Regions from separate parts of the Homo sapiens genome. Here region 1 is linked to region 2. Evidence: fine-mapped QTL for protein levels in blood plasma. A gene starts in region 2. The other region holds a variant in brackets. All regions are shown on one strand. Distances are between the middles of the regions.

Region 1 (13,886 bases), 56 kb after region 2:
GGAGTCTTCCTTGGGTCGTTTCTCCCTTGTGCACGCACCGTTACATACTGTGCAATGCGTTGGTGTCTTGGGGGACAACCCAGCAAGTAGAGTTGGTGTATACGTCATGGCTTCCTCTGGGGTCCTGGGCTGGCTGGTCCGCTGGGCACCCCCCCCCCAACCACCACCAGGCCTTGGCAGGACCCTGGGACTGGGACTGGAGGTGACCCTCGCTGGCCCCTGCCCACCTTCTGTTCCTGCTGAGTGGCTCTTTGGGTGGCACCATGCCCAGGCTGTAAACAGCTGGTGAAGACTGCTGGCCTCAGGCGGCTGTGGCTCTGCGACTTCTCTGGATGCGGTATTGGTGGCTCCACCCACCAGCAGGAAAAAGTCAGGTTGTCCCTCCAGAGGAGCCAGGCCAGGCGCTGCAGGGCACTGTGGTGGTCATCCTGGGTAGCCATGTGACCGTGGCATGCTCCTTGGCATCTCTGATACCGGGTTTTGAAACGACTGAGAGCTAAGTGCAGGAGTTGGTTGGCATTAGAGGCGAAGCCCAAACTCCTGTAGTGGGGACTTTGACTCAGAGCAGCCCTGGTAGCCCCCCTCATGCTGCGTCACAGCCCTCACCTCCTCTCCCCGTCTCCTTGCAGGAAGTTCTACTACATCACCCTGCTACGAGACCCCGTGTCCCGCTACCTGAGCGAGTGGCGGCATGTGCAGAGGGGTGCCACGTGGAAGACGTCGTTGCATATGTGTGATGGGCGCACGCCCACGCCTGAGGAGCTGCCGCCCTGCTACGAGGGCACGGACTGGTCGGGCTGCACGCTACAGGAGTTCATGGACTGCCCGTACAACCTGGCCAACAACCGCCAGGTGCGCATGCTGGCCGACCTGAGCCTGGTGGGCTGCTACAACCTGTCCTTCATCCCCGAGGGCAAGCGGGCCCAGCTGCTGCTCGAGAGCGCCAAGAAGAACCTGCGGGGCATGGCCTTCTTCGGCCTGACCGAGTTCCAGCGCAAGACGCAGTACCTGTTCGAGC[G/A]GACGTTCAACCTCAAGTTCATCCGGCCCTTCATGCAGTACAATAGCACGCGGGCGGGCGGCGTGGAGGTGGATGAAGACACCATCCGGCGCATCGAGGAGCTCAACGACCTGGACATGCAGCTGTACGACTACGCCAAGGACCTCTTCCAGCAGCGCTACCAGTACAAGCGGCAGCTGGAGCGCAGGGAGCAGCGCCTGAGGAGCCGCGAGGAGCGTCTGCTGCACCGGGCCAAGGAGGCACTGCCGCGGGAGGATGCCGACGAGCCGGGCCGCGTGCCCACCGAGGACTACATGAGCCACATCATTGAGAAGTGGTAGTGGCGGTGGTGGCCACGGGGAGGCCTCTTGGGGGGTGTGGGGGATAAAACAGGACAGACGACAGGTCCACCCAAGACTGTCAAGGGATGAGCATCCCAAACCTGCTCCACAGAGGTAGCTGCGTCCTGAAAAAAAACAGAGCAGGGATGTAGTGGGGCTGGGCAGGGATGGGGGCTTGAGAAATCAACAGGTGCAGCCCAGTGGGTCAGAGGAAAGCGTGCTCGAAGGATGCCATGGTCAGGGCAGGGCCTCCAGAGCAGGTGTTGTGCCTGGAGCTGCTCTCCTGGCCTCCTTGGATTTATCGCAAAAACTGAAGGTTTGCGCAAGAGACGAGGACAGCGGAAAGTGGACCTGCCAGGCCGGGAGTGTGTCCCTCACCAACTATGCACACAGCACTCGCTCTTAGCTCCTCTGTCCGGGCTACTAGGAGTGAGACCAGCTTCTGGCAACTGCCCCAGCTCCAGGCCATCCCATAGCCCCTCCTCTTCTGGCTGCCCCCAATGCCCCGAGGCCTGGGGAGCCCCCAGCTCACCCATCTGTAGCTCCCTCAAAGTCAGGGCCCACCCCATCTGAGGCAGAGAAGACTCGAGTCCAGCCCCCAGGAAGCCTGCTCCCCTCTCTGGCCCATGGTCCTGCTTCATGCTTTGGGTCAGGAGGCCAAAGCTGATGTTCAGGCCCCACCCACTCCCTACAGTCCTCAGACCAAGGAGGGGTTTGGGTAGTAGGCCCGAGCTGCATTGCCGGCCTTCCTCGGGCCAACTGGCAGCCCAGGAGTGGGGAGGCTTTGGCCAGGGATGCTGCCACTTGTGCGTGAGTCCGCGGCTGGCCCTTGGAGGTGACCATCCAGGCAGGCCTGGCTCAGACTGGAAGGGCTGGGGACCGAGGGCTCCCCTGCCTCTGTTCTCCTTTCTGACCCACTGGGATTTGCTAGCAGGCTGCCCCAGCCCCATCACCGAAACACATACTCAAGAGCTCAAATACCACTGCTCCCACCAGCGTACGGATTAAGTTCATCAGGCTTCCATCGGCTGGAGCATGGGACCATAGCCCCTGCCCAGGAGCCGTACCCTCGGACCACAGTGGCTCTGTATGGCCAGGAACTGGGACTCGAGCTTTCAGATTCTCAACTAGCCTTGGCAAAACAGCTGTAGGTGGCCTCCCTGACAACAGACACTCAGCCCTCCCCACCCTGGCTCTCCTTGCATTTCCCCATGCTCCCCACCCCCTGGCAAAAGGCTGGCCATGCTCTGTTCCCAGCAGCCGCGCAGGTTTCCCCACTGGCTGCAATGGCCCTACCAAAAGCCATGTTGCATATCCGTTGTAAGCACGTGCCCTGTGCCCTGTCCCCATTCCTTATGCCCTAGGAGGCCAAGCTGGTGTCTCTAGGAGGGCCCACACAGGCACCCTGGATCCCCCAGAGAGTAGATTGGTGTGCTCAGGCCGCAGGCTGACTCAGAGGTAGGGCAGTGGGCTCTGCAGGCCACCTGGCTGGGGTTGGTGGGGGTCCTCTCTCCTGCCCCAGCTTCCACTCAGCCACCACAGTTGCCACACCATGGGGTGGAGACGTGGGTCACCACGGGCTTGGGAGCAAGCGCCTTCTGCAGCACAGGAAGCCGAAGCTGGGGTCAGGTGAGGTCGCTACCCCTGGAGGTCTGGCATAAGGGCCCCACCCTCAGGTCTCCTACACTGGCCCCATTTTACTTTGGGGTCCAAGGACAGGATGGTCAACAGGGCAGGGTGGACAGCGTGCCAGCGCCGCGCAGGGCCACCTCCCTGGGTGGATGCATCACACTAAGGAAGTGAGTGCCAAGGGGATTTAGTGGTGTGGTTCTTTCAAAGGGAGGTCAGGGTCAATGGGAATCTGCTCGGACACTCAACATGGGGGTGGGTGCACTCCTTGGAGGAGGAGGAACACGTTCAGGGGATTGTGAGGTCTTGCACAAGCCACGTGGGGCACCTTGGCTTCCCGGCAGGAGGTGGACACCCAGCCAGAGGCCTGGCTCAAGGTGACCTCACCTTCACCATGGGCTTCCTGGGTGCGCGGGCCTGAGCGCAGGTTGTTTTGTACATATTGGAATATGTGTTAACTTATGCCCCGCATCCCAACTCACACGGAAGCACGGGTCTTGTCTCAGTCTCTTCGCTGCATTTGGAAAGCAGTCTCCTCTCGGGCCAGCGCCGGGCTGAGGTGTCCAGAGGCGGCGGCAGCTGGCAGTGCCCTCAGCCCCCAAGTGTCCAGCCTGGCACTTCCCATTCAGGCCACCTGCTTTGGGTCAACAGTTCCTTTGCCAGCAGCATCTCCTAAATTGTAAGGACTCTGTCCACCGGGGCCCTCCCAGGGCTGTGAGGACGGAAACAGGCAGGGAGTGGAGCTAACAGCTTAGTCACCAGGACCCCCAGACCTGCAAACGTCCCCTCCTGGAAGGGGAAGCCAGGAACAGCAGAACTGCCCACAAAACAAGGCTGTGAACTTTTCGGGAACTGGAACTGTTTAACTTGAACCCAGGATTGTTTAAAGCTTTATTTATTTATAGCTTCTTCTTAAAAAAAAGTGTTGAAGAAATTTTTTGGTTATTCATACAAAAAAATGAGTTGATGATGGAAAAGCAAGTCATAATCATCTAATTGTTTTTGTCTAGGTCGAGAATGAATGTTAGCTGATGAAATAAACCCTGACAAGGAGTGGCGGGTGTGCTGTGGTCTCTGCGGGCATAGCTGCCCCTCCCAGTGGGGTCTCACACCACGTCCCAAGGGCGGGGTGCTTTGCACAGGTGCAGGAGGCTCAGTGAGGAAAGTCCCATTAAGTAAGGCATTCTGAAAGAAAAAATGGGACTTTGTCATCACCATAAAGAGTAACCGTTTATTAATCATTAGTGATAGTATTTGGGAAGATGACACCAGTTGAGAGGGAGGCAGGTGCCACTGAGTTACATTCTCATTAACCTCTTCCCTCCCTGTCTTTGGAAATTTTGAAAGATTTCAAATGACAAAGAGAGTGGAGGAATAGTTCATGGACACCCACATGCTCTTGGCCTAAATTTTTCACCTTCTCTTATCCTGTGCCCACACTTTCTCATACACGCACACACGCGCGCTTTTCTGAAACATCTGAAAGTAGGTTGTGATCATCAGAATACTGCACTCCTAAATCCATCAGCTCGTGTCTCCTAAGGACGTTCTGCCACAAAACTCAACCCTGTTATCCCAGCCCCCCCCCCAGATTTTATAACAATACAGTATTTTCCAATATCCAGATCTTCTGGTTGTCCTAGAGATGTCTTCAGAGCATTTTGTAGCCCCAGGACCACACGGTGCCCCATGTGCCTCTCCTGTCTCCTTGAATGGAGGAGAGGGTCCCAGCTACCCCTTCTTTTTTCCGTCTTTCTTAGGATTGACATATTTGACTAGTAGAGACCAGTTGTCTTAAAAGGTCTGCTGATGTTGGCCGGGCGTGGTGGCTCACACCTGTAATCCCAGCACTTGGGGAGGCTGAGGCGGGCGGATCACGAGGTCAGGAGATCGAGACCATCCTGGCTAACGCGGTGAAACCCCGTCTCTACTAAAAATACAAAAAATTAGCCGGGCTTGGTGGCGGGCACCTGTAGCCTCAGCTACTCAGGAGGCTGAGGCAGGAGAATGGCATGAACCCGGGAGGCAGAGCTTGCAGTGAGCTGAGATTGCGCCACTGCACTCCAGCCTGGGCAACAGAGCAAGATTCCTAAAAAAAAAAAAAAGAAAAAAAAGAAAAAAAACTACAGATGTCAGTTTCCTAGTGGTCAGATTCGGTGAAATTGGGTAGGAAGGCCCTCGGGTGAGGCACCTTCCATCAGCCCAGGTGTCCTGTGGCTCTGTTCCCCAGATGAGGGAAGTCCAGCCTCCCCACTCAGCCCCTGGGGAAACCCAGCCATAGTGGTCACCTGCCAGCTCATACCTGCCACCATCCCAGTGACAAAGGTCACCAGGGTGTTTCTGGGAGGGTCACGGCTTCTACCTGCCACCATCCCAGTGACAAAGGTCATCAAGGTGTTTCTGGGAGGGTCACGGCACAAGTAGGGCAGGAGTCAGAACGTAGCTGCCTTCTTAAAACCCCAGTCTCAGACTCCACGTCAACACCTGCTCATGCCTAGGTAGAGTGCGGAAGGGAGGAGCAGAGGCCAGACGCCAAGAGGAACTCCCGAGTCCTTCCTGGACACTTCATGCGGAGGTTTATTTGGGGTGTGGACCAGCCCTCAGCCTGGCTTCTCCCTCGGGGGAGCCAAGATGGAAGCTTCCTCCACCTTCTGATAGTACCACTGGACTCTGTAGGGCCAGTGTCATGATCAAAGGTGAAATCAGACCTGAAAATACCTCACCCAGAATGGGGGTTTTCCTCTTCCTGCTTCTCTTTAGAGTTGAAGGCCACCTTTTTTTGTTTTTAAAGACAGAGTCTTGTTCTGTTACCTGGCCGAAGGCCACTTTATTAAAGTCCACCTGAGGCCAGGTGCGGTGGCTCACGCCTGTAATCCCAGCACTTTGGGAGGCCGAGGCAGGCAGATCACTTGAGGTCAGGAGTTCGAGACCAGCCTGGCCAACATGGTAAAACCCTGTCTCTAACCAAAAATATATAGTCGGGCGTGGTGGCATGCGCCTGTAATCCTAGCTACTGGAGAGGCTGAGGCAGGAGAATCGCTTGAACCCAGGTGGCAGAGGTTGCAGTGAGCGGAGATCATGCCATTGTACTCCAGCCTGGGCAACAGAGCAAGTCTCTGTCTCAATAAATAAATAAATGAATGAAGTCCACCTGAGCCAAAGACTCAGGAGGCTCAGGCCTGCCCCCTGCCCAGCTCTCATCCCCACTTCCTGCCCACTGCCACAGAGTCCCCACTGTGAGCGTCAGGCTCACCCGATCCTCCGAGGTCCCCTGCCCCCTTCTATCCTGCCAGGGAAACCCACATCTGCCCTTGCTCCCGGGCCTGTGGGTTTGGACAAAGGCAGCTCCTCTACCACCCAGCCTCGTGGCCAGCGCCATATGCCTCATCCCTCCTGCCCCGGCGTTCTGTCTTCACACCAGTTGCTCCAGCCATGGCCAGCCACGGCCCTGTCCCTGGATGGGCCTGTTAGGCCTGCTCCCCACTGCTCCCCTTGGGCTTCATGCCAAAGCCATCAGGCCAGTATCAGTCCTCACACCCTGTTCAGCTGGGGGCACCTTTGCACACAGCGCTGGGTTCTCTTCCTTGGGGAAGCTGGGCCCCAACTAACCCTACCTAGACGTGGTCTAGGTGCCTGGCTTGGGGCCCCTGGTCCCCTTCATTGTGGCACAGAGAGGAACCCATCCTCAGGCCACCCTCGCAAAGGTGGGAGCCCTAAGTCCTCTCCCGGGAGTGTACACCTGGACTCGGGGAGCTTCCAGCCTAGGAGGACTCGGAGGGCACACAGTGTATTCATGACATGAGGACACCTTCCTAGGAGGGCCTCACCTCAGGGCTCCAAGGACACCCCTGGCGGGGAGAGCCTGGGTCTGGGTCCCCTGACATGTAGCAGCAGCAGCAGAGAAACCTGCAGGAGTCGCTTTGTCAGATGAGGTCTTGGGTTCCAAGTGGACCACTGGCTGCTGTTTGCTCCTGTGCCTCCATTTCCTTCTCTGTGAAATGGGAAGGCTGGGCCAGGTGTGGTGGCTCACGCCTGTAATATCAGCACTTTGGGAGGCCGAGGCAGGCGGGTCATCTGAGGCCAGGAGTTCGAAACCAGCCTGGCCAACATGGCAAAACCCCACCTCTACTAAAAATATTAAAAATTAGCCAGGAGTGGTGGCGGGCACCTGTCATACCAGCTACTCGGGAGGCTGAGGCAGGAGATCACTTGAACCCAGGAGGCGGAGGTTGCAGTGAGCCAAGATCACGTCACTGCACTCCAGCCTGGCAACAGACTTCGTCTCAAAAAAATAAAAAAAAGAAATGGAAAGGCTGCTGTGAGGATCTGGCTGCATCGGGGGAGCCAGGCCTGGCCCCACACCTGCCCACAAAGGCGGACAAAACACTGACCACAAATGAGCCACCTGGGGGCTTGTTGAAAGCACGGAATCCTGGCCCCACCCACTGCCTTGCCGCTGCCCAGCAAAACCATGTGGGCCCAGCCTCTCCTGTGGGCACACCCACACACTGTCCCTCTCTCTCCCCTTTCTTTCCCCCAAAGGGCCATGACCGTTTTCCATGCAGCCCTGCCCGGCCCTGCCATCCTGCTCCCAGCCCCACGCTGAGAGGACACCTGTCTGCCTCCCTCCTGCCGGCCCTGCTCCCTGCTGCCTTTCACTGGCCTCCAGCTCTGTCTGCACCAACACTCCCAGCTCAGCCCCGGGCCTCGGGCTTCAGGGGGGACTTGGGCTCCTGGGGCAGACCCAGAGGAGGGTCTGAATTCATTCAGCACTGCCCAGACTTGCCCAAAACGTGGCCTCTTTAAAGAAACTACTTACATCCTGTTAAGCCACTCGTCCCCTAGCAGGGACAGGGCGCTCACACATGGTCCCCCTCACCCCACCTTGTAGAGGGATCATTGGTCTCGCCAGGACCGCCAGCTTCTGCCTTCAGCAGCTCCACTGCAGGGGTGTCCAGGGCGGCAGGAACTCAGAGTCTAGTCTCTTGGCTCGGGCGAGACACAGAGACCCCTTCTGGGGCCCAGTCTGTCCCCTCTAATGGATGCCCTGCCCTGAGCCCCCACCTCAGCCCCAGGTCCCCCTCGCACCCCAACCGTGTCTGAGCGCCCACTGCCGTGTCTACTGCACTGCACCCAGCCAGGCCTGCCAGACGCCCCTCGCAGGATTCCAGGTGGGCGCCACAGCCCATCTCCCAGCGCCCGGTCCCAGCAGAGGCCACAGCCATGGAGGGCTGAGGTGGGGTGTCTTCCCTTTCACCTGTGCCCCGAGACTTCCCCACCCCTTGCACCTTCTCACTGTCCCCTGCGACAGGGCGTCCTGACTGCCCTGTCCTCCCACCCTGCTCTGTGGCTCCTCGGAGCCCTGTGATTTCTATGCAAGAGGAAGCCTGGGGACTTTGGAAAACACTTTTCTTTCTCAAACAAAAAGCCAGGCATTCAAGACAAGCCTCTCCAAGACTCCAGGGAGTCAGCCTGGAGCCGTGTGGCTCAGGCTCAGGAATGCTTCTTTGTTCCCTGCGGTGCCCGCCCAGCCCCAGAAGCCGAGAAGGCCCGGGTCCCAACCCGGGGAGCACCAGGCAACGTTGCTCGTGAGGGCTGAGCGGGTGGGCCCACTGCTGCACAGCGTCCTCTCCGGGCAGCACCGCCTGATGATGCCTCAGGCACAGCAAGAGCTGGAAGGGGCCCTCGGCTCTGGGAGAAGGACTTCCAGGAGAGCTGGCTGAGCTAACAAAGGCCGCTTGTGTGACTCACGCCCTTGCTTAGGAAGCGGCCCTGCACAGCCTGGCTGCTGCTTCTGGGATCTGCCGAGAAGTGCCGCTCGGGAAGTGGCCTGAAGTCGGTCCCTTTCCAGCGGGCACTCCATGAGGGCAGGGGTTTTTCTACCTGGAAGATCTGAAACTCAGGCATCGTGGCAGAGCCTGCTAGCTGTGCCTTGGTAGTTGTTCTCCTCTCCTTCCTTAGTAGTAGAACCACTACATATCAGCGGTGACACAGCAAGCCAGAATCAAGACTACACTTCCCAGCCCCCTTTACAATGACATGTGCTGTCACTACACCCTGTGGCCAACAGTTTGCAAGAGGAAATGTTCCTTGCAGCTTTGGGAGACAATCCTGAAACAGAAGCAACTTCCTCCCTTTCTCCTACTGAATGGCTACAATGAGGATGTAATGGCTGGAGCTCAAGCAGCCATGTTGGACCATGAAGTAGATGCCATGTGGTGAGGGTGGTCGAGCAACAAGATAGGTCCTTGATGATTGTGGAACCACCCTAATAGCTTTGGGATGCCTACCTTAAGACTTTATCCATGTAAAATAGAAATAAGTGTGTTCTGGCCGGGTGCAGTGGCTCACATCTGTAATCCCAGCACTTTGGGAGGCCAAGGCAGGTGGATCACCTGAGGTCAGGAGTTAAGAACCTGACCAATATGGTAAAACCCCGTCTCTACTAAAACTACAAAAATTAGCTGGGCGTGGTAGTGGGCACCTGTAGTCCCAGCTACTCAGGAGGCTGAGGCAGGAGAATTGCTTGAACTCAGGAGGCAGAGGTTGCAGTAAGCCGAGATTGCACCACTGCACTCCAGGCTGGGTAACAGAGTGAAACTCCGTCTAAAAAAAAAAAAGAAAGAAAGAAAGAAATGTGTACCTTGTTAAGGCCACTGTTGCTTGGGGTTTCTGTCACTCTCAGCTGAACCTAATGCTAACAATGGTCCGGCCACTAAAGATCAAATTCCTGCAAAGAGCATAGCTGGAGGCTGCAGCCCATGTAACAACACCTTCTTTCCACCAACTACTCAAGACACTGCTGCTGTTCCTGGCTTCATTTATGTGGAAGTGTTAAAAGGCCCAGAGAGGGGAAAGGCGCTTTTTCCTTTTGTACCTTTTGATTTTTGAAACATGTGAATGAGGCCGAATGCAGTGGCTCACACCTATAATCCCTGCACTTTGGGAGGCTGAGGCGGGAGGATTGCTTGAAGTCAAGAGTTCCAGACCAATCTGGGCAACATAGCAAGACCTTGTCTCTACAAAAAAATAAAATAAGATTAGACAGCAGTGGTGCTGCATGCCTGTAATCCCAGCTGCTTGGGAGGCTGAGGCGGGAGTATCAATTGAGCTGAGGAGTTGGAGGTTGTCGTGAGCCGAGATCAAGCCACTTCATTCCAGCCTGGGCAACAGAATGAGACCCTGTCTCACAGAAAAGAAAGAAAGGGAAAAGAACGGGAGGGGAGGGGGAGGAGAAGGAAAAGAAAAGAGAGAGAAAGAGAGAAAGAAAGAAAAAAAGAAAGAAAGAAAGAAAGGAAAGGAAAGATGAAGACAATGAAACATGCATGAATTACCCATTCAAAACATAAATAGCTGGAAATAAAAACAAAAGCAAAATGGAAGGGAAGATAAACACAAATTCATGACAGGAATTTTCTCAAAATTGCAAAATGGGGACTTCTCAGGCTGGAGGAATAAGGGAACATCAACTTTATCTGTAACACTTTACATATTTTGATTAGAAAATAAGACAAGAAGAACAATCATCACCTCTGAGTGATAGGTACATTTATATATAAAAATTTATAAATTTATAAATCTATTAATATGTATAAATATTTGAATCTTATATAAATGTGTATATATCTTATATAACAATAGTATATATTAACAATATAAATACATATAATAAAGCATAAATACATACTAAGGATACATGTTGTTCTTTGGACTTTCCTGTGTGGTTATGTGTCTCAAAATAAAGTCATAATTTGAACAAGCCTGCCTGTGAGTTCAGTGCAGAAGCCTGGACTACCTCAGGCTACCAGCTCCCGAAACAGGAAGGGACCTGGCACCCACAGTCAGGTCCAAGCACTCCTAGGACATGGACAGAGGACCAGGCTGGTTGGCACCTCCTGGGTGGCCAGGTGCCATGAAGTCAGGGGAGCCGAGGGACACGGGCTTTAAGCTGTTCCACACCATGTTGCTGGATTAATCATGGAGCAATGGTGACACCAGTCCTGGTTCCCCTGGGGAACACATCTCTGTTCCCCCACACATCTGTTTTGTCCCTTTTCACAAGAGCCCCCAAGACCAGCTGCCACAGCCCCACTGCACACAGCGCTGCCTGGGTGAGGGGACGTCCACTGAGCCAGCAATGCTGAGGGGGACACCTTGGTGGAAAGGGCCCTGCCTCCCGGCCGACCCTGTGGCCTTCTTGTGGCACATGACACAAGCAGAACCAATCAGATCACTGCCCAGGATTTCTTATTTAAGATTTTTATTTTTTTCAGATGGAGTCTTGGTCTGCCCCCAGGCTGGAGTGCTGTGGCATGATCTTGGCTCTCTGCAGCCTCCACCACCTGGGTTCAAGCAATTCTCGTGCCTCAGCCTCCCAAGTAGCTGGGATTACAGGCGCACTACCAAGCCCAGGTAATTTTTTTTTTTTTTTTGGTATTTTTAGTAGAGATAAAGTTTGGCTATGTTGGCCAGGCTGGTCTTGAACCCCTGACCTCAGGTGATCCACCCACCTTGGCCTCCCAAAGTGCTGGGATTACAGGCGTAAGCCACCGCGCCTGGTCCGGGAGTTTAGATTCTTGTTTTGAATCTTTTCCTCTTCTCTAATGGAAACATTTCTTGCCGTACATTTGCCTCTCAACACTGCTTAAGCTGCCTTCTATAAATTTTAATGTTACATTTTTATTCTTAGTTCAGTGTTTAAATTTCACTTTAAGGCTTCCTCTTTAACTCATGGAATACTTAGAATGACATTGTTTAGTTCCCAAATGTTGGGAGATTTTTCTGTTATCTTTCCGTTATTGATTTCTAGTTTTATTCCATTGTGGTCAGAGAACATGCTCTGTATGATTTCAATTATTTTAAACTTGTTGAGATTTATCACCCCGTCTATGGTCTGTCTTGGTATATATTCCATGGACACTTGGAAAGAAGGTATATATACTGCTGTTGTTGTGTGGAGTGTTTTACAAATGCCAATTAAGTCTGTTCATTGTTGAATTCTTCTATATCCTTGCCAATTTCTGTCTAGCTGTTCTATCAATTTTTGAGAGAGGAATATTAAAGATTCTAACTATAATTGTGGATTTATCTATTTCTCTTTTCTCAGTTTTGTTTCACATATTTTGTAAGTGTCTTGTCTGGTGCATACACATTTAAAATTACAATGCCTTCCTGGTGGATTTTGACCAGTTTAGCATTATATACTGTCCCACACTATGTCTGGTAATTGTCTTTGCTCTGAAGTTTGCCTTCTGATATTAATATTGTCACTCCTGCTTTCTTTTGATTAATCTTCACATGATATATCATTTTTCATCCTTTTACTCTCAACTTGCCTATATTGTTTTGTTGTTGTTGGTTTTGGGGTTTTTTTGTTTGGTTGGTTGGTTTTCTTTGGTTGGTTTTTTGCTTTTTGAGACATGGTCTCGTTTTCTCGCCCAGGCTGGAGTGCAGTGGCACAATCATAGCTCACTGCAGCCTCTACCTCCAGGGCTCAAGTGATCCTCCCACCTCAGCCTCCCACCTCAGCCTCCCAAGTACGTGGGACCACAGGCACATGCTGCTACACTTGGCTAATTTTTGCATTTTTTGTAGAGATGGGGTTTCACCATATTGCCAAGGCTGGTCTCAAACCCCTGGCCTCAAGCAATCCTTCTGCCTCAGCCTCCCAAAGTGCTGTGATTACAGGTGTAAGCTACCACACCTGGCCAGCCTATATTGTTTTATTTGAAGTTAGTTGCTTGTAAGCAACATAGAATTGGGGCATGTTTTTTAATCCATTTTTTTTTGTCTTTTAATTCGTGTATTTACACCGCTTACACTTAATATAATTATTGACATGTTAGGTAGGGCTTAAGTCTAACACTTCATATTTTGTTTTCTGTTTGTCCTCTCTTTTTTCATTTTTCTATTTTCTTTTTCTTGCCTTGGTGTGGTTTGGCTGAACAATTCTTTAGAATTCTATTTTCATTTATCTGTAGTGTTTTTGAGTGTATCTCTAGATATAGCTTTTTTAGTGGGTGCTCTAGTATTACATCAGTATACAGAATTTATCACGGTCTACTAGTGTCATCATTTTACCAGTTTGCATAAAGTATAGAAACCTTACCTCCCTTTTTTATATCCCTTTTTTCTCCCCCATTTATAATTGTCTTAATAAATACTTCTTCTCCATACACTTAGAACCACATCAATGTTACAATTTTTGCTTCAACCATCAGATACAATTTGGAAAACTCAAGAAGAGAAAAGCCTATTGTAGTCACCCATATTTCCGCTTACCATGTTCTTTCTTCCTTCCTGGTGTTTCAGGGTTCCTTATTTTATTGTTTCCTTTCATGTTTAGAGACTTTCCTTTAGCCACTCTTTTAGGGTAGGTGTGCTCGTGACCACCTCTCTTGGTTTTCCTTCATCTGAGAATGTCTTGGTTTATTCCTGAAAGATTTGGGGAGCGGGGGTAGTAATGAGATTTTGGGTTGACAATTCCTTTCTTTCAGCACTTGAAAAAAAATTATGCCACTTTCTCCTGGCTTCCATGGTTTCTGATGAGAAATACACTGTCATTTCAGTTGTTTCTTCCTCTAGGGGTAATGTATTGTTTTCTCTGGCTACTTATTAAGATTTTTTTTATCTTTCATTTTCAGGAATTTAATTATGATGTATGTTGGAGTGGATTACTCTGAACTTATCCTGTTGGGCATTCATTCAGCTTCTTGAATACATAAGTTTATGTCTCTTGCCAAATTTGACAAGTTTTCAGCCATTATTTCATCGCATACTTTGCCAGCTCCACCCTCTTTCTTCTCTCCTTCCAGGATTTGGATGGCATTAATGTAAGATCTTGTTATAGGCCCACAAGGTTCTGCTCATTTTTTTAAATCTGCTTTTTATCTCTGTTTTCAGATTGGGTAATTCCTTTT
Region 2 (14,901 bases):
GCAGCAGGGACAGGCACGTGCTGCCAGCCGTGGAAGCCGGAGACTCCGGGTAAGGGCAGGAATTGGCTCACTGTGCTACCCTCTCTACTTCTGTGTGAATTTAAACTCTTCGTAAACAAAAGTCAAGAAATCAAATAGAGCCTAACAATTATTGGATCAGACTGGGATTACAGGATGGAAGTAATACAGGTTTTCTCTGCCACACAGTGGGATGGGCTCTCAAGAAGATGGGAGCAGATAAAAAGAAAAAGCTATGATTGAGTTCTGGTCTGGACAAGGAGGTATAGACCCATTTCTCCAGCTCCCCTCTTCTAAGCTCAGCTACAAACCCTGGAAATGGCACCAGAGATAGAGTCAAAGGAGGGCGTGGAAAGATGGAAGAGGAAGGTAAGCGCGTCAAGACCCTAGGACAGGAGGAACAGCCCAGCAGCAGGGCACCTTACAACCCCACCCGGCAGGAGGACGTGGTCCAGGCCGGGCTGGGGGCTGGGGGCTAGGCTCTGCCCAGGAGCCCAGGACTTGGGTTTCTCCAAGGGCTGGGAGTCGGGAAATGGGAAGGTGGAGAGGACCCTCAACCAAGGCTCTCACCAGGGAGGGGACACTGTCCCCTTGGCCAAGTCACTATCCTCTGCTCAGCCTCAGCTCCCTGACCTGAGAAATGAGGGAATTATGCCCATAGGGCAGCCGAGAGCACTGAATACAATCATGCACAGAGGAGGCCAGCGCACAGGAGGGCCTGGCACACAGGAGAAGCCGAGTAGCTGGTTTTGAATATGCGGATGCTGATAGGGTGCTTCCCACAAATCGACAGTAGGAATACCTAGCCCTTGGCGTAGACAGGGCTGTGGAATAAGCGTTTGCTTGCTTATTGCTTACCATGACCCTATGAAGTAGGTCCCATTATTATCCTCACTTTACAGATGAGGAAACCAAGGCTCAGAGAGGTTAAGTAACTTGGTGAAGGCCACACAGCTGGTTAGACAGAGCTGGGGTGTGAACATAGCACCTTTACTCCTAATGATAATGTTTAACTTTGTTTTCCTACAACTGAGGCTGAGACCTTCCTCCTTGGCCCCCAGCCCAGGTGGTCCCTCCAGGGACCAGCCTGAGGGTAGGAGGAGTGTCCCAACCCCAGTCACCCAAAAGCCAAAGTCAAGGGCAAAACACGTACCAGGAGGCCCTCACCCGGCCCAAGGCTGGTCAAGACTGCATGGCAGTCACGACGGTATAGACGTGGGTGGCATTGGTGTGGACTCCCTTCTCCAGCCCCCTTACCTGAGGGGTGCCTCTCCCAGCCTCGCGGCCTCAGCTGAGCACCCACTGGCTCTGTGACCTTGGCAAGTGGCCTCATGTCCCTGGGGCTCAGCCTCCCCATCTGTAAGGAGAGGCCCACAGAGCTGCTGTTGGATTATAAGAGATGTGACTGACAAGGGCTCAGCACGCAGACCTTGCCCATAGGGTGATTATTGTTGTCAAAGACACAGCCTGAGGCCCTGGGTGGAGCACAGCCTCCAGCCCAGCAGGTGTGAGCCATACCCCATCCCGTCTGCTGACAGAAATGTGCCTCCCTCTTTTCTGCTGGCCTGAACAGCACCACAGCACTTGTCACCAGCCCAGGCCTTCAGCCAGGTGGACGACCTGGTGTACCACACACCCATGGTGTGACCCTGTCCCTGGATGCTCTGAGAATAGAGGAGATGCTGTTGCTGCCCCATAGGCCCTGGGCCCAGAGAAGGACGCAGACTCCTCCCACCAGGAGCCAAGGTTACCCTCCCCCAACCCTGAGTGTCTAATTCCCACGAACTCTCCTTCTTAAAGGAGGGCAGGGAGAGAAACGAACAGCAAGAACCATAGCTATTTGGTGCAAAAAGAAACGTGGTCACTGAGAGATTCCAGGAAGTGTCAAGGCCAGCCAGGTTTACCGCTGCCGTGCTGAGCCCTGGCCTAGGGACAGGTGAGCCCCCTCCCCACAGTGCCACAGGGGCGGGCAGGGCCTGCTCCATAAAGCCATCATTGTGTCCCACCTCTGTGCCCCCACCCAGGGCCCGGGTCCCACCAAGGCCCTGGGGCCCTGCCCAAGAAGAAGCTTCCATCAGAACAGTCAACTGACTTGTCAAGCCAACTGTAATCTAGCAAGAGGGCGACTCTTTAATAGCAGTGGCGATGAATGGAGGTAAAAAGAGCAGGACCTGGTGACGAGGAGCATGGGGGCCGGCCATCATCCTCCAGGAAGGGCACTGGCACCAAGTGAATTCCACAGACAGAGGGGTGGCCAGTCCAGCCAGCAGAGAGTGGAGCAGAGTGGGAGCTGGTCCCGAGCCCCAACGATCAGGCAAGGCTGCCTGGAGGGCACTGACCATGCCCTTCTAGGCATCAGGGCCCAGGACTGAGGCCACCTTCTTCCACCTGTGCCCCGGCCCCTGGTGGCTTAGGCAGCTGGGGTGGGAGCAGCAAGCACCCCATGGTTGAGTGACTTTTCTCGGACTAGAACATTTCACCCTCAAAAGAGCCGCCATCCACCCCACCCCACCCCCAGGGAACATCCCCAACAGTGGAGCTTGTCAAGCTGCTCAGTGCCCTCTCTGGTGGCTCCCCCGACCCGGCCGAGTCGGAACCCCTCTGGGCAGTGAATGACAGCCATCTGGGAGGAGACCCACTGGCCACCGGAAGCTGCGAGCAGTCACCCCCCACCCCATCCAGGCTGTGATCCCGCCTCCACCCTAGTCGTCTAAAGACATGTCCCTTGGGAAGTTTCAAGCAGAAGAACCAGGACGATGCCCTTGGGGCAACGTTACCAGGTCCCTGTCCTGCCTCCCAAGCTGGCAGAACCCGCCAGGCCTGCCCACAGTCCCGCTGCCCGGGGAGGAGGGTGGGCTCCACTGGACAGACTCCGAATCCCGGCCAGGCAGCAGTCCAAGCCCCCCACTTGCCAACAACCCCACGTCACACGCGAGGGCAGGGGGCCAGCCAGGGGGAGGTCACCGAGCCAGCAGGGCGGGGGGGGCGGGCAAGGGCCGGGGAAGCCCAGGACCACGCTGCCCCTACGAATTGCTCAGGTTCTCCTCTTCTGTTTATCCTACCCTCTTCCCCTAAGGACTGAAGCGGGCCTGGAGGGCCTAGAGAAAGGGCACAAAGAACAGCGAGGCCCTGGGCGGGCGTGGAGGGAGGGGAATGGCCCTTCCGAAGCCCCGGGCCTCTTCCAGCGCGGTCCTCGAACCGAACCGCAGGACCCCTGCTGTCCCCGGGCAGCGGCCGGAGCGCGTCCCTCGGGTCCTGGGAAGACCTGCCGCGTCTGCGGGCTGCCTGGGAGCCCAGGCGCCCCGCGGTGCTGGGGGAGGAGCCCGGCACGGGGCCGCTGGGCGGCAAAGGGGCCGCGGGCTCCCTGGAGGAGGCGGCTGCGGACGGGGCCTGGCGACCTCGGAGAAGGTGGCGTCCACGGCGCGCAGCCCGGCGCCCCAAGCCTGCCGCCGGGTCGGGGTCGGGGCCGGGGCCGGGCCCCGCGGGTCCGCGCGAGCCGGAGTCCCCTCTAAAAGTTTGTCCCCAAACGAAACCCCTCTCTCTGCCCCGCGTGGGCAGCGGGGCCAGCCCCACGGGAGGCTCTGAGGACAGACACGACTGCCCTCCTCCACCCCTTGGCAAACAACAATGGGCGGCCGCCGGACGAACGACGAGGGAAGCGAGTGTGGAAAATCCCCCAATTTTTTGCAAAGTCAACCGCGGGCGCTCGGGGGCCGGGCCGCGTGCTGCCCCCGCGCGGCCGTCCGCGGGACTGTGCGCCGGGAGGGGGCGCCGCTGTTGATCTCGTGGTTCTCAGACTCTGAGACCGCACGGTGGGCCGGGAATGAGGCTTCATTCCTGAAGCCGAATGTTAATGCCTCTTCTGGGATCATCACAGCCTGCCACTAAGCCGTGTTCTTTTACTTTTCTTTGCCATTAAGTCAGAGATCACGCATTAAAGAATTGGTGAAGTGGATCTTCAGGGGACAAAGCCACTGAGCAGAAGAGCTGCCAGTGCTTTTCCTTGGACCCCACAAGCAGTCAGGGCCAGAAGCTGCCCCTAGCAAACACTTAGCTCATATGCACTCTCGGGGCTGGGGCAAACCTTGGCCACGCAGGAGATCACCCAGGGAAGAAAGGAAACAGCGCGCAGAGCGCGCCTCCTGAGACCCTGGCTGTGTCCGCTGACCTCCTGGAACCCCACGCCAGCCCCAGACTGTGCGTTTCTATCCATTTTCCAAGACATGACACTGAGGACTCATCGCGGGGAGTAGCGGGAAGTGGTGGGGAGTAGCGTGATGCAAGCTGCCCCGCCAACGAGGGCTCGAGCTGCCTTCCACTCGGCTCAAGTGTCCACTGATTGATGGGTGGCTCATCTGACTTGACTTTCAGAGCCCAGAAACTCACCTACAGCCTTAGGGTCTCAGGTGCCTGTGCAGGGCTTCAATCAAAGTGGAAGACTGAGCAAAGTCCTGTAGCCAGCCAGGCAGATTTCCCTCCTCTTAAAAGAATTCTAGAAAGAAAGGGCTTCCTGGCTAATGTGAGTGCTTCCCATCAGCCAGTGTGGCAGGTATGAAGTTGGATTAAATAGCTTGTTCTGGGAGATGTTGCTCCATGGGTCAGGCTGCTCTGGCTCCCATTCAAGGGTGGGACCTTATCACAGGCACTTCGTCCCTGCCTGGGCCTCAGTTTCCCCCTTGGGACAGTGAGATCATCACAGGGTGGAGCCATGGCCCAAGTACCGATGGCTTCGTTGGCCTTCGGAGCTGCTCCAGCTTTCCCTTGAACACTCTGGGCCCACGTTCCCCCTTGGTGGCAGTGACGGTCACCAGGCTCTCAGGAGTGGCCCCTGTAGACGCTCTCATCCCTGGCCTAGGGAGCTGGGGCAAGTGCAGAGGTGGGGAAGGGGAGGGTTCTGGGGCTCACAGCAGGAATCAGGATCCCAGCTCTGCTGACTCTCATGGGGTGAGAGTGGTTGACCTTGGAACCAGGGTCTTAACCCCTTTGAACCTCAGTTTTCTCTTCTGTAAATGGATATCACAGCCTACCCCCGCAGATTTGCTGATGGAATTGGAAATGACACCTCTACAATGCCTGGCACCCAGCAGGTCTCCAAAAGAGCAGCCTTAATTATGATGTAGCACGAGGATCCTTATCTGGGTAAGGACATCTGGGGGGTGGACCCGGGGCAGCTGTGCTCCCCTAGGCCACACAGGAAGGCTCCCCAGGGCTCAGGCACAGACTGCGTCAAGGGGCTGCAGGCAGGTCCAAGCACACTGCAGGGCGGCCCCACCTGTGTCCCATGGGGACTGCACCCCCACTCCTATAGGAATGAGTCACTTCTGGAGAAGCTTGTCCAAGCTGCCCCCAGGACCCTCGGGCCAGGGACAGTTTTAAAGCAGCCTACAAGATGAGCAGGGGCTTTGGGGCCCTAGGTCCCACTGAGGACCCCACACCATGGACTCCAGGGTGCGCTGGGCTGTGTTGAGGGTTCTGCACCCGCCTGTCCACAGCGGATATTCTTGCGGTCCCTTTGGAAAATGCATGCCGCCCGCTCAGCTGGGTTTGGGGTGTTGGTTTTTCCAGCTCTCTGGGTTTGCTTCCAGGAGGGCTTTCTGGTGTGATGTTGTCTACGTTTAACAGCTTTACTGAGGCATAATTGACACCCCATGATCGCTTCCGGTCCCTAACAGAACGGAAGGCAGGGCACCACCCCGCCTCCCCCCCCACCCCGTCCCCGGCAGGGCTTGACGTGGACACTGGGAGCCCACGCCTGGCAGCCAGACTCGCTCCCAGAGCCCTCGCTGGCCTGAACCAACACACTAGGGCCCACCGCGGCCGGCCCTGCAGCTGTGAGATCCTGGCAGGTCCCAGCCCCACTCCTGCGCTTCCGACGGGCTGCAGCCTCCGAGTACTGCCAGAGCCCAAGCAGTGTGAGTGGGCACCTGGCGGGACCCCCCGCCCCACGAATGCCGCGCGTGCTTGCCAGGCTGGGCGGCGGCGAGTGAGGAGCCCGCACCACCCGGCCCACACACGAGCCAACGTGGAGCGAGCCCTCCGCAGCCAGGTTGGGCCCGGGCCGCTGGACTCTCCAACCAACCCACGAAAGACAGAATATTTGGTGGGCACTCACGATTCTTAAGAATTGGCTCAATGTTTTATAACTCTTTCATTGGAGTATAATAAACATGGATGGGGGAAAATGCACCTCGTCTGATATTCTTTTCAAACAAGGAGGAAGCCATAAAGCCGCTCCGCAGGCCTCTGCAGACAGCCCAACATCTCTTCAATGCGGGGCTGCGGGGCACTGTCCCAAAGCCAGCCGCAGGGGTGAGGGGGTCGAGCAGGAAAGGAAAGCCTCGCTTTCCCTCTCGGTCCTGGTGGTGGGCGGCCCCCGCCGCCCTGGTCCCTGGAAGTGCAGCCCAGTAGGCTAGCGTCTAACTTCAGCGCCCCAGCGTGCAAGGTCAAGGCCTTTCCTCCCGCGCGGGCTGCGGGGACGTGGGCGGCTGGGACTTGGGGAGGAGGGGGTACGGACCCAGGCTCCAGAAGCGCCAGCCGCCGCGCCCCCTCACCGCGGCCCCCGCCAGGAGAGCCTCCCACGCCTCGGCTCCGCACTGCCGGTTGGTCCCCCACTCCCCTGAGGGCGGAATCACTTCCCAGTCGCTGGCTGCCCGCCTGCTAGCGGCCTCGCCACCGCAGCAGACCCAGGTCCCGCGCCCAGCACCCGCGGCGAACCCCGGCACTCCGGAGGCGGGGCCGAGGATCGGCGCGGGCGGCGACGGCAAGAGACGCCACGGGGGCGGGCCAGGGGCGGACCGGGGCGGGGCGGCGGCGGCGGACTGCGGAGACGCGGCGGCGCGCGGGGCGGCGCAGAGCGTTCTCGGCGCGGAGTGGAGCGGAGCGGGCTGGTGCTGGGGGCGCGGAGAGCGCTGTGCTGGCCGGGGCCGGGAGCGGGGCCGAGCGGGAGCGGAGTCGGGCGTCGGGCCCGGGGAGCCGGGGCCGGGCGGGGAGCAGCCATGGCACCGCGGAGGGTCGGGGCCCGCGCCGCTGCGGGCGGCCTGGGCGCCGAGTAGCCGGGCCGGGCCGGAGCGCGGGCGGCGGCGGAGGCAGCTGCGCCCGCGCCTCCTGCCCTCCCAGGCCCCGCGCCCCGCGCCCGGGCCCCGGCGATGGTGACACATGCGGCGGCGGCGCGCCGGCGGCAGGACCATGGTTGAGCGCGCCAGCAAGTTCGTGCTGGTGGTGGCGGGCTCGGTGTGCTTCATGCTCATCTTGTACCAGTACGCGGGCCCAGGACTGAGCCTGGGCGCGCCCGGCGGCCGCGCGCCGCCCGACGACCTGGACCTGTTCCCCACACCCGACCCCCACTACGAGAAGAAGTACTACTTCCCGGTCCGCGAGCTGGAGCGCTCGCTGCGCTTCGACATGAAGGGCGACGACGTGATCGTCTTCCTGCACATCCAGAAGACGGGCGGCACCACCTTCGGCCGCCACCTCGTGCAGAACGTACGCCTCGAGGTGCCGTGCGACTGCCGGCCCGGCCAGAAGAAGTGCACCTGCTACCGGCCCAACCGCCGCGAGACTTGGCTCTTCTCCCGCTTCTCCACCGGCTGGAGCTGCGGGCTGCACGCCGACTGGACCGAGCTCACCAACTGCGTGCCCGGCGTGCTGGACCGCCGCGACTCCGCCGCGCTGCGCACGCCCAGGTGAGCGCCCGGGCGGCGGGATCCTCGCGCAGCTGCGCCCCCGAGGCCGGGCCGTATGCCCGCCGTGCTGTACTGGGTCGGCCCTGCCTTCCCTACCCCCTTCTGCCCTCTTGGGGGCCCCCACTCGCCGGCACCCCTCCCGACCTGCCGAGCGCCCGAGGCTCCCAGCTCCTCTGGGTGAGCCGGCTGTCACCGCGCTTTCTGACCTCGCTCTCACTCTCTTCCTTGCCTTGTGCTGCCCTACTGCCGGCTTGACTGCGCAGCGCCCGGGTTTTCTCCAGGGTCCCCGCCCGCTGCCCTCGGGCCACCTTACCTGCTGTGCGCCGTGAGGTCTGGCCCGCCGGACTTGGGGACGCGGGCTTCTGGGTGTGTGCGTGGCCTACCTGGAGTGTTGGCTTCCCCGTGCCGCTTCGGTGCTGTGGTCCCAAAAGTGGAAGTGAGAGTAGTGAGGTGCCGCCCCTGTGCCTGGAGTGCCTGCCTTCAGAGGGTGGGGGAGCTGCCAGGGAAGGGGGCTGGCTCTGCCCGCCTGCCTGCCGGTGTGTGCAGGTAGAACAAAGGCCCTGTTGACCTGGGGCTGGGGGCGGGGAGGAGGCAGTACCGCCTGTCCTCCCAGTGGGGCCTGCCAGCCGAATTCTTCCAGGCACAGGCTTGCCTGGAGAGAGGAACAAAAGCCACCCGATGGGGGACCACCTTCCCCAGGAAGCTACCAGCCAGGTTGGGGGTAGTTGAGCTGGTCCAGGGAACCTGTGCTGCCACACCCCTTCTCTGGGGTCCCCCAGCCCCATGTCAGAGCTGAGCTGCGTGAGGACACAGAGCATGGGAGGGGTGCCGGGGCAGCTCTTCTGGGAAGCCGTTTGTAGGGGAACCTGGGGTGCTGCTGGGTTTCCAGCAGTTAAAGTTGGGGTTATTTTCCTCCTGTTCCTGTTGGTGCCCATTCGTCCTGCAGGGATGCCCTGCGGGGCCTTTCTCCCCAAAGTCTGGGCTGGGAAGGGCCAGGAGCAGGGCTTCTTGTCTGCCTTTTGTTTCTCTTCCAAATTTGCCTTAGGACTGAATTTGCAGACAGGCTGGTGGTAGGAGGCTGGGCGGTTGTAGGCGTGTTGGCTGGCACTCTTGGGTCCAGAGGCTGTAGGCTCTCAGGTGTGCCTGGGGAGCCTGGAAGGTCCAGCCAGCCTGGAGCTGAGCAGAGTCCGAGACACTGCTCCCCTGCACAGACCTCAATCCTTGCTCTGTGGTCTTTCTCAGGCTGTCAGGAAATTGGGGTCCTAGAGTTGGAGGGGCATCTTCCCACTTTTCTTTCTCCCCCCTCCCCCAACTGTACACACACACACCCACACACACACACACACTGCAGCTCCCAGCCTGGGAGGTGATGTTCTGAGCCTCTTACAGCCACATTCTACACTTGGCGGTCACAGAGCTGCCTGTCTAGGGCCCCTGAAGGATTGCTTCCGGCCCAGCACTTAGTCTGCTCTGCACAGATGCACGTTCCTGCTGCAGGGCCCCCCTAACCCTGGTCCAGCTTCTCTGTGCTAGGCTCAGCTGTGCCTGGGACCACAGCCATGCCCCCACCCACCCTTCCACCAGTCAGAGCAGTAGGCTCCCAGAGTTGGTCACTGACCAATACCAACAGACGCCTCCCTACCTGTGGGGGGTGCAAGGATGGGGGTCACCCCCTTTGCCAGAGGGACTTAGCTCGGCAGCCTAAGAGGATTGCGTGGAAGCTTCGGGCCGCCAAGAAGCCGGAGCTTTTGAAACAAGCCTGCTCAGCAGAGGCCACCTCAGCCCTAGATTGCAACCAGGATGCTCTTCCTGCAGCCCCGCACGCCTGTGGGTCCCCAGGGTGAAGAGCCTTGGCCTCCTTTCTCTGGAGTTTGTCCATGAGAGTGGGAGGACCAGGTGGGGCCGATGGGGCCCCAGGTGCTACACCAGGAAGGCCCGGCTCCCCCTGCCCAGGGAGCATGTGTGGAGCAAGAATGGAAAACGCAGATGCCTCTGGCGGAGGTGGGCTGCCAGCCTGGAAATTGCTAGCTCAGCAGCATGCGCCAGGGTTGGGAGGGGCTTCCAGGGCCGTCAGGAGGCCCCCTCTGCCACCCACTCTGGAAGTGGGTTGTGCTACCGGGCAGGTGACAGCACCCCACCCTCCGAGTCCCTCTTCTCCGCCTCCACTCCCTTCAGTTCTGTTGCAGGCACTAGGTAGATTGCTTTTTTAATGAGCTTCATCAGGAGGCCAAGGTAATCTTGCCTTTGTGCTCGCAGGGCCAAGCTGCACTGAGGTCCACCTGCTGAGCGCTGCCCCGCCACCTGAGTCTTCTGGCCCAGGCTGGAGCTGGGCTAAGCTGCTCTGCTGTGGCGGTTGGGATGCACTTCCCCCATCTGCCCAGGGACCCAGCAACTCTCTATCAGGGGCAGTGCCCATCCCTGCTGGGGTGCCTCATGTTAAGTGGGCTTGGTGTCAGGAGACTCAGGTGTCACCCTGGCCCTCCTGCGATGTCTTCACTCTGGCTCTGCACTGCCATCTCCGTGTTCTCTGGGGACTGAGACCCTCTTTTCCTTCTATCTCTGCCTGCCTCCCTGCCCAAGGCTGGCTCCTGGAACCTCTCCACCAAGCCCCTCCCATTCCCTGCTGCGGTTTGGGAGGGTCTCAGTGGGCCTGTGGTGCGCGTAAGAGAGGTGGGGCTCTTCCCGGCTGCCAGCCTCCCCATTGCACAGTATCAGCCTGGGCTGCTCTGAGCTGGGCATCCATGGAGATGGACAGGTTTTTGATGTCTTCCTGGAATATGGTTTGGAACTTCTAGTGGCTGTTAGTGCTTGGCTGCCTTGGTAGAAAGGAACAAGAGTGAGCAGAGCATTGGCGGGTCCCTGTTTAGTCCTGTGTTCACCATGGGGGCTGCCTCATCTGCCGACATCAGCCAGGGTGCTTGTAAGACTCCACTGGAAGGACGTTTGCTGGCTGGCCTTAAAGAGGTGTGGCCATCCCCAGGCAGCAGCCAAATGGCCAGCCATTCCAGGGACCACTCGGTTAGAATGTCTCAGCACCCCACACTCCGCTGTCACTCAGAGGGTCCAGATGGTGCTCCAGAGCCAGAACCTCCCTCCTTCCTCTTCCCGTCTGCCTGAAGGCAACGCAAGAACAGGCATGGTCAAGGTCTTGCCCGGGCCACCCTGGAAATGTCCCTGAAATCATGTGGGCTTCATTTGGGGCCACGGAGGGCATCTGGAGCCCAAGTGTGGCATCTGGGCCACCTTGGCCGGGAACCCGGGACCAGCTCACATCCTCTCTGCACCAGGGCCTCTCTGGAGCCCTTAGTGGGCTCGCAGCCTCTGTGACGTTGCCCTGCAGAGACCAGTGCTTCCTTGCTGGAGGGATGGCGCAGGAGCCCGCAGCCTCGCCTTTGACCTGCCCTCCGTGATCCTGAAGCCTTCTCAGACTCCAGAAATCCGCCTGGTGCTGGACCTGTGTGCCGTCCACCTGGTGTGCCTGCTCTCCTCTCCCACTTTTCTGCCTGCTCCTCCCCTCCCTTCAGTCTGCTCAGATGCCCCTTCCTCCAGGAAATCTTCCCTGGCTTTCTGTTCCTAGGCTCCCCTGTTGCCTTAGGCGCCTCGACTGCTGTCCCATCTGACACCGTGCCACCTTGGCACTGCCCTCATGCTGGCACCATGGGAATTTTTTTTTCCTGGACTCTGCAGGATCTGGGCTCTGTCCCTGCCCTTTCCCTGTGACTCAGGTTCACGGAGTCAGTCTTGAGTGTCATGGTGTTCCCTGAGAACCTGGGGACTCCTTGGTGGGGCAGACCAGGTAGGGGTGGGCTTGGATGAGAGCCTTCGTTTCTGTGGCATGCGACAGTTTCCACCTTACCTTCATAATCGCTTTCTTCTTTGAGATCAAGGGAGAAACCCTCATCTGCTGTGATGGGGACAGATGTTACCCAGAGCATGTGACTGGGGCCAATGAACAGGACCTGGGGACCAGGCTGGGGGTGTCACTGTGCCTACATTGCCTAGAGAGGCCTTTGGTTAAGATGAGAAGGGAATCTGTGGTCAAGATGCTCCTAGATTTTCACTAAAAATAGATAAAAAATCCTTTTTTTTTTTTTTTAAGCAAACACATGATAAGGCAAACTTACGAATGGTTGGGTGACAGGATCGTTTTAGATGGTCCTCTAGCTTGGGGGATCATTTCTGCCATGCTGCTCTGGTGGTCTTCAAGCCACAGCTTCCTGTCCTAGGCACTTCACGCATAAAACTGGGGCCTGGGGACTCCTGCTCCTGGATCAGAGAGCCCAGTCCCAGAGAGTGCAGTGCCCACCTTGGTCCCTAGGGCCAGGGAATCCAGGTTTCTTTCTCAGCAGGAGTTCTGGCTGCCACACGGGGGAGTGGCCACCTTGGGTCTGGCATCCTCCAGGGCCCAGGAGGGAGGAGGAGAAGGGGCCTGGTCTTGTCGTCCTTCGGGGAGTTGGAGGCTTTTGCTCTCACACCCCGCTTTGTTGTGGTTATAATGATTGTTTGGTAGATGAGTGGGAGGAAAGTATGAGGCAGAGGGAGAAAAGGAAAATCATCCATTCCCCATGCATGGTTTTTCCACTGTAATTGAAGCCATCATATAAATTTCACCATAAATGTTGTCTGTTGTCATTAAAAACTTAATATTTGAGTGGCTGCAGCTGCTCCGCTCTGAGTGTGCCACCGCTGGTTGGCAGTGGGTGAGTGCGCAGGTTGCTCATTCTGTACTCTGTGGGGACTGCTGCAGGACTGCTCCTTGTGTGTAAATGTTCTGCATAGCTCTGATTTCCTCTGGAGATTCCTAGGAGTGGAATTTCTGAGTTGAATAGTCTGAATGTCTTTACTGCTCTTGGTACAAATGTTACCTTCCTCTTCAGAACACCCACTCCTGGTATGCTCCCACCTGTGGTCTGTGAGCACCCATGTCAGTGGCACACTCATTGGTACTGAATAGCATGTGAATTTTTTTTTTGAGATGGAGTCTCACTCTGTCCGGTGCAGTCTGGACAATGATGGCACGATCTCAGCTCACTGCAACCTCTGCCTACCAGTTTCAAGCGATTGTCCGACCTCAGCCTCCCACGTAGCTGGGATTACAGGTGCCCGTCACTACACTTGGCTAATTTTTTTTATATTTTTAGTAAAGACGGGGTTTCACCATGTTGGCCAGGCTAGTCTCGAACTCGGGACCTCAGGTGATCTGCCCGACTTCGCCTGCCAAAGTGCTGGGATGACAGGTGTGAGCCACCGCACCAGCCTATTGTGAATTTTTTTTTAAATTTATTCTCTTAAATCACCGAAAAGTGCTAATCTTATGGTTTTTATTGCAAAGCCTTGCCCAATGAGTACACCCTTGGGGTGGCCCATCTATGTAGGGCACTTGGGAGCAGCCATGCCCAGTCACCCACATGTCGCCACCTGCTCACAGGTGGCTGAGTTTCACCCCTGCTGAGAGAGGGGTGCAGCTCCCAGGGGCCTGGGGTGCACCCTCTCTGGGTGCCCATCACCATCCCATGTGGCATTTTGCGGGACTGAATTCCGCCTCTATGAGGAACAGGCGTGACAAGCCATGGGGGCATGTAGAGAGGCTGGCAGGGTGACTCTTGTCCCCTGCACACTTAGCAGGCACTTGGAATGGGTCATCTTGTTTGGACCCAACACTCCCCCAAGACAAGTATATGAAGAGCAGCCCCATTTTCCACACAAGGAAGTCAGGCCCCAGAGAAGGTGGAGAATGTGTCAGTCCCTCAGCCTGGAGGGCCAGGAGCTAGCATGTGGACATCTGTCTGTCTGTCCTGAAGGCTGTATGCCGCACCCAGCCCTCTGCTCCCAGCAACCCCTGCATGCGCATGGAAGGCTGTCTGCAGGTGGGGGCGATTGCCGCTGGCCCAGACCAGCCAGATGTAGAACACTAGGGCTTCTGAGACCTGGGCAGACATGGGCAGTTTCACATGTAGGCCTGTGTCGTTGCGTTTACTGGAAGACACCTGGCAGCCTTCACTCAGAGCAGAAGGACAGGCATCATGCCTGGGCTCTGGGCTCTGCAAAGGTAGTGCTGGCAAGGCTGCCTGAGAGTCGGCCCCTGGCAGCAGAGACTGCCCATGGCGGTGCTTGGCTCCTGGCGCAGTGTGGCCACCCCTTCTGCCACCTCCCCCATAAGATTGGGCTGTTTTCAGGTACTCCTCTGGTCCTGCACCACCGATGCCACCACCGGCCCAGGGAGGATCAGCCCTGCAGGAGGCAGTGCTGTGAGCCTGTGTGGGTGCAGGTGGGTCTAGGCCATCCCTCTGCTCCAGTGTCCTTGCTCTGCCCCAGTGAATGCTGGAGGGTGAGGAGATGGGAAACCCAGGAGTCTCCCCAACCCCTCAGCTTCCCTCTCTGGGTGCCATCACCATCCCATGTGGCATTTTGTGGGGCTGCATACCCCCTCTATGAAAGACTGTGGGGTGTTTCTAGGTCAGACCTCAAGCATCACGGAGGCAGCAGGACTGGGCTCAATCCCCACTTGGTGGTAGCGTGTGGTGGGTCTTTGGGTTTGAGGCGGGAAGAGCATGAGAAGCCGAGCTCTGGGGAGCAGTTACTGAGTGGTAGCATGTGGGGCCCAGTCAGATGGGAGCCCCACTGGAAGGGCTGCATGATTCAGGCGGGAGGCAGACTCGGGCCATCCCCTGCCAGCACTTTTCGGGCACTTCTCTGCAGCCACCTGGACACTCACTGGCACCTGCTCTCCTCTCCTTGAGGCCCACTCCACAGCAGTATTTATAGGTGAGGTGACATTTTGTTTGCAAGAAGGTTTTCATCTCTTAAGACTGTTCTTGCCTTCTCAGAAACTCAGTTGGCTCTGTGAAGATTTGCTGTCTGTTTTGGGTTTGGGTGGGGTATGTTATGCTGAAAAAAATAGTCCTAGACCTAGGGGATGAGGTTGCTCCAGCCAAATGACAGTGAGCTGGTGGTAGCCAGAGGTGTGGGCTGCAGTGCCCTGAGGGAGTGGAAAAGCCTCCCACACACAGGGTTTTGCAGGATGAGCGGGGTGTGGAGTGGAAGCAGCACTCAGAAAGCACAGTTGGGTTTCAGACACATCATGCGAGACCCCGCCACTCACAGCAAGGGGGGGCAGTGGAGATGGGACGGCATGAGTGGAGAGGGGCCCCTGCAAGCAGGCCAGTTGCTTTCTGACTGTGGGACTTGTGGCCTAATCTCT

Direction of the effects. Positions count from the first base shown, and alleles are read on the strand shown. Strength reflects both the effect of a copy and how common the allele is.
With allele G in place of A in region 1, the plasma level of the protein whose gene starts at base 6,869 in region 2 is lower (weak association).

What was found. PIP is the posterior inclusion probability: the model's chance that the variant is causal. Protein levels are from antibody-based Olink assays in UK Biobank. Linkage for the fine-mapping came from a reference panel and not from the study's own genotypes, which makes the PIPs less certain.
Region 1: its variant is fine-mapped to the plasma level of the HS6ST1 protein (UK Biobank, PIP 0.98). The variant lies in the coding sequence of HS6ST1. If it changes the protein, the assay may bind it differently, which can mimic a change of level.

The regions. Positions count from the first base shown.
Region 1 is chr2:128,255,614-128,269,499 of GRCh38, reverse strand. It overlaps HS6ST1 (heparan sulfate 6-O-sulfotransferase 1), which reads left to right. Exons shown (of 2, transcript NM_004807.3): 2 at 630-4,020. The coding sequence ends at 1,338. Among named protein-coding and RNA genes, the nearest start is that of HS6ST1, 56 kb to the left of the region's middle. RefSeq lists enhancers at 6,426-6,927, 6,942-7,511, 8,083-8,653 and a silencer at 8,551-8,845. The variant G/A (reference allele first, on the strand shown) is at 1,019.
Region 2 is chr2:128,310,836-128,325,736 of GRCh38, reverse strand. HS6ST1 (heparan sulfate 6-O-sulfotransferase 1) reads left to right here and starts at 6,869. Exons shown (of 2, transcript NM_004807.3): 1 at 6,869-7,700. The coding sequence starts at 7,174. RefSeq lists enhancers at 1,902-2,834, 8,862-9,011, 13,679-14,660, 14,661-14,901 and silencers at 3,301-3,510, 3,551-3,870, 6,527-6,936, 7,631-7,860.